2 separate regions of the Homo sapiens genome follow, and region 2 is linked to region 1. Evidence: fine-mapped expression QTL. Tissue or cell type: monocytes after LPS. Region 1 holds a variant in brackets; the other region holds the start of a gene. All regions are shown on one strand. Distances are between the middles of the regions.

Evidence for each region. PIP is the estimated chance that this variant, and not a neighbour inherited with it, causes the effect. A credible set is the group of variants that fine-mapping cannot tell apart.
Region 2: LINC00917 starts here. The variant in region 1 is the best candidate, but not a certain one, in a credible set for the expression of LINC00917 in monocytes after LPS (Quach 2016, PIP 0.75).

Annotation. Positions count from the first base shown.
Region 1 is chr16:86,386,400-86,389,158 of GRCh38, reverse strand. No RefSeq gene overlaps it. Among named protein-coding and RNA genes, the nearest start is that of LINC00917, 42 kb to the right of the region's middle. The variant C/T (reference allele first, on the strand shown) is at 1,495.
Region 2 is chr16:86,344,284-86,347,042 of GRCh38, reverse strand. LINC00917 (long intergenic non-protein coding RNA 917) reads left to right here and starts at 1,364. Exons shown (of 7, transcript NR_024406.1): 1 at 1,364-1,551.

The DNA.
Region 1 (2,759 bases):
ATAACGAGTGTGACTGTGCTGTAATTAAACTGGATGTGTTCTCGGAGAATTCTCCTGTTTTTGTGGCAGAATCTGGCTGTGGTCACAGGTGATGGGCCAGATTTGTCCTACAGACTATGGTTTGCTCACCTCTGGCTTGGAGCACTGGCTTAAGCATCAGATTACATGATTTTCTAGCTGTCAGACCTTTGGGAAATTATCTGAGAGCCTCAGTTGTGCCACCTGTAGAATGGAGATAAGGATTCTATGTAAAGCACTGGGTTGTTGAGAGAATTAAATGAGTTGATGTATGTGAGATGCTGAACATAGAGCCAAGCAGGAAGAGTCCAAGGTCATGGGAGTCGTGGCTGAGATTAGGATGATGGAGATGATGATAGAGGGAGGGGAGCTGGGTCTCAGTGGAGCACTGGCTGGGAAGTCAGAAGCCTGGTTTCTATACTCTCCTTAGCTGCTGACTCTGGGGGACCTGGGTGAATCCTTCCTCCTCTCTGGCTTCAGTTTTGTCACCTTGCAGGTGAGGAAGTTGGACTGAGGAGTGTCCAGGCTTCCTTCCTACTCAATAACTCTGGGATTCTATAGTGCCCTTTAAAAGATATGGCATTGCGCAGTCGGCACTCGCTAAAATCAGTGCCATATTAACCATTGCACCCACTGACACCTCAAAGCCAAGGCCTCCCGCCGTCTGAAAACCTGGTCTTCATCAGAAAGTCCCCATCGCTGCTCTGTGAGGCCGCTCGTTCATTTACTCATTGGTGTGTTTGTTCAGAAGTGATCAAGCCTCCTACCACATGCAGCGCAGATGCTGAAGCTACCAGGGCGAGGATAACCAAAGTCTCTGCCCTCGTGTGACTGGCTCTCATGAGAAATCCCCTTTGTAGGGAACAAGTCTGATCCGGCCGTGGTCACTGCAGGGAGCGAACGAGTCTGATCCATCTGTGGTCACTGAAGTGGGTGAACGAGTCTGATCCGGCTGTGGTCACTGCAGTGGGGTGAATTGTGTCCCTGAAAAAGATGTGTCCACATTCTAATCTTCCAGACCGCACGAATATGAACTTATTTGGAAATAGAATCTTCATAGACATAATTAAGATAAGGATCTTGAGATGAGATCGTCTTGAACTTACGGTGGGTTGTAAAGCCGATGACAGGTGTCCTCATAAGAAGCAGAAGAGAAGACACAGACACACATAGAGGAGAGGCCACATGAAAACGGAAGCAGAGATGGGAGTGATGCATCCACAAGCCAGGGAATGCCTGGGGCCACCAGGAGTTGGAAGAGGCAGGAAGGATCCCCGCTGGAGGCTTCAGAGGGAGCAGGGCTCTGCGGATGACTTGACTTCAGACTTCTGGCCCCCAGAACTGGGGGGAATACATTTCTCTTGTCTTTTGCCACCCAATTTGTGGTAACTATTGTGGTGGCCACAGGCCGCTCACGCAGTCACCATGTGTGGGCTGCTGGGAGCTGTTCTCCAGGCCCTCCCTCTGAGTCACTCT[C/T]GCCTCACACAGGATGCTTACGTCCCTGGAGGAAATGCCATCTCTTGATAAGTGGAAATACTTTTTGGGTGAAGAAATTGTAAGCACACACTTGTTAGTGAGGTTCAATGCTCTGTTTCAGTTCCTGGGTCAATGGCTGGTGCAGAAAGGATGTTTCAGATTCAGGGTGATACGTGGACCAAGGAATTCAGCCAAGTATGTGTTAAGCCAGGAAGTGATTTCTATGTGTCTGTGTTATTATTTAATTAAAAATATGTTAATATTTTTATTAATAACATTAATTAAAATGTTATTATAGAATATTATTACCATATGTGTTAGTATTTTTTATTTGTTAGGAATCAAAAATAAGTTTTTGTGAAGTTGTGAAAGCTATACAACCTAATGTATAGTACCATAGATTATAATCAATTAACTTTTCATATCATATCTTTTTCTTCTAGTTGTTACCTTTTTTTGGTTTGTTTTGGGATTTATCACTAATTCATTTATTCATTCATTTATTCATTCATTCAATTTTGATCAATAAATTGTTATTATGGGTGCCCAGAGGCCTCAGGAAACCCGTCTGATTATTCCAACTTGGAAAAGTAATTTCACCTTCTAAGCTTCGGTTTCCTTGTTTATAAAATGGAGCTCAAACAAGGGGCTCTAGTTGTGTGAAGATGAAACCGGAACCTACGTCTCTGGGTGCTGTGACGTCGCAGGAGGTGCCCCGAGCTCCCAGGAGGCGCCCCGAGCATGTTTCTCCCTTGTTTTCCCGTTTAGGGCTGACAGTGGTGCTGCTTACTGAAGTAACACCTCTGATGTTTTCTCAAGCTGTTTGCTCGCTCGAGGTCTCAGATGCTGGCCAGTCCTGTTCAAGGTCAAGGTCAGACACCTGGTGGAAGTGGCCAGGTGCGACTGAGACCTAGCTGTGCCTGACTTCTAAGAGGCGCAGCCCTGCTCCCTGAGATTCCCCCTAATCCAAGCCCCCAGCTGGGGCCTGGGGCCACGTGGACATCTCCCACCTTGCTGGCCATGGGCTCATTGGACTGGCACTGCCACCCTTCTCTGGATGTGATGCGTCTTTCTGTGAGCTGGGCAATGTCGAAGACTCTGTGTTGGTTTAAGATGCATCACTTACCTTCAATTATTAGACACTCACTGGGCACCTCCTCTGTTCCGTGTGGGGACAAGAGGCTGAAGCACCCAGTCCTGCCTCCCAGGCTGCAAGTGACATTGCAGGGCCTTCAGCCCTCCCTACAAGTGACTCTCCACCACTC
Region 2 (2,759 bases), 42 kb after region 1:
GTCAAACAAGCCTGGGTTCAAATCCTGTCCCACCCTTGCTTGTTCTGTGACCTCGGAAGTCAGTTCCCCTCTCTGAGCTTCCTTTGTCTCATCTGTAAAATGGGGACAAAATATAAAATGTAAAAATACAAACCAGGAAGTTGGAAGTCATACACTTTCTGATTTCAAAAGTTACTAGAAAACTATGACAATCAAAACACTGTGGTCCTGACCTACATACAGACAGATAGACCAATGGGACAGAACACAGAGCCCAGAAAGAAGCCCTTTGACTTATTTGACATTCAAGTGTCTTGAGCCAAGACCCTTCAGTGGGGAAAGGGCAGTCTTTTCAAAAAATGGTATTTGGAAAACCAAATACCACACGCAGAAGAATGAAGTTGAGCCCTTCTCTTACACCAGATACAAAAAATTAACTCAAAAAGGATCAAAGGCATTACCATAATAACTAAATGTAAAAAAACTACAAAACTCTTAGAAGAAAACATAGGGGGAAAGCTTCACAATGTTGGACTCGGCAGTGGCTTCTTGGCCACGACACCCAAGAACAGGCAAGAAAAGGAAAAACAATTAAATCCATGCAAACACGTGTGCACAAATGTCCTCAGAGCGCTATTCCTAACAGCCAAATGCTGAGAGCAACGAAAATGTTCATTGACAGGAGAATGGATAAACAAAACGTGGTCCATCCATACAGTGGAATATTATTCAGCCTTAAAAAGGAAGGAAGTTCTGACACCTGCTATGACATGAGTGAGCCTTGAGGATATGGTGCCGAGTGAAACAAACCACTCATAAAAGGACAAACATTGTATAATTCCACAGACATGACTTGCCTAATGTCAGCAAATTCTCAGAGATAGAAAATAGCAGGTGGCGGAGGGCTGCTCAGGGTTACGGGGATGGGGGTGGTGTTTAACAGGGACCTTCCTGAGCTATTTCCTGATAGCAGCTGGGAGCCTTTTGAACAGCCTGCAGCGGGATTCTGGAACAATCTAAACTGGCCATGGCAGTTCCAGGGGCAGGGCTGACTTTGAACTCCAGCAGGAAGTGCAGTGCGAGGCCAGCTCACCCACTTCAGCGTCTCTTTCCTTTGTGTTGTTTAGACCCCCAAAAACACCCCCAAGTCCTGTCTCCCCTTGTGGAGGAAAGGCTGGTGGGAGGAAAGAAGGCTTGTTGAGTATCTACTGCACACCCGGCCCTGGGGCTACGGCTGGAAGCTGGACAGGCCGGGTCCTTGCCCTCCTGAGACCTGCCTTCTAGTGGGGAGAGAGATAGAGACGGAGGAAACAAAACACAGACCAGAGGATTTCAGAGGGTCTGAGGGCTCCGAGGAGAAGGAACACGATGATGTCATAGAGTCATTGTGGGGGAGGGGCCGGCCAGCCAGGGCAGGCAGGGGCGGCCTCTCTGACGAGAAGGAGGCCACTGGGCTGAGGCCAATGAATGGGAAAGAGCCAGCCATGTGGTGAGCTGGGAGAGGGCATCCCAGGCCGTGCGACCTGCGCTTGCAAAGGCCCTGGGGCCGGACAGTTCTTGGCAGAGTCTGAGGTACAGGATGATCCCTGGATGAGCGCCTGAGTGCACGAAGCATGGGTGGAGAGGGTCAGCTCCCAGCGTGGCTGCAGGAGGGGGTCGTGTAATGAATACTAAGTGCCAGTTCTGCAGGATGGAAACAGTTTTGAAATTGGACGGTGGCGATGGTGGTGCGATAATGCGAATGGACCCAATGCCACTGAAATATTCACTTTAAAAAAGTTAAAATGGCAAGGTTTACATTAACTAGACTTTGCCATAATAAAAGAAAAAGGAAAAAATATAATAACTGTGTGAAGTTGAGATGAAATGATGCAACTAATAATTTAGTTTGGTTAGCAAAGAGTAGGCACTCACATAGTTCAATATAACCATCATTATGACGGTACCCTGTCAGTGCTGGGGGATGCTTTATGAGGGAGGTGGAAGACGAGGAGGAGGCGGAGAGAGAAAGAGAATCAGCTTCTGTTATCCACAGCAGGATGCCTCTGGAGTTGTTTGAAGTAGAAAGGTAGTCCATGTGATCCCGTTTATATTGTAATATTGCTTGAGTAGGTCTTTAAAATTACAAAGTACTAGATAGAGCTAACTCAGCCCAGTCCTAATAATCACGACTCCTTGAGTATCTGTGAGGCTTCTGGTACGTTCTCTACAGTCCCAACATTGGGACCGACTGAACCATGTGTTGCACATTAAATCCAGGGTCCGGGACACCTCCCAGGCCACCTCTGTCATTTCACAAGTGCCAGGCCATCTTCTCAGTGCTTGTGAGCATCCCTTCACACTCAATCCTTCCCACACACCTGCCAAAGGGAAGGAGGCAGGAACCACCTACGGATGCCAAGAAACAGGCGGCATGGTCCTCCCGCCCTCGAGGCTGTTACCACCTGGAACACCCCACCCCAAAAGTAAGACCACCTACCATCTGGGCTTCTGTCTCACACAGGATATAGCCTCTCAGTGGCCAACTGTTTTTAATAAGGGTCTGCCAGTTCTAATGATATTGCACAGACACGGGGAAGGGGAGAGAGGAGACAGGACTTTGTCATGAGCTGTTCATCCCTCCAACAGCAGTGCTGGTGTCACGGCTGATGGGCAAAATTCCTACAGATGCCTTCTCTTAGAAACTCACTTCCCTCTGGAACCAGACGCAGGCTTCTCCAGGAAACAGCTCACTACCTGACACAATCCCCAACCCCCCTCTGTCTTCTTTTCCCTTTTGC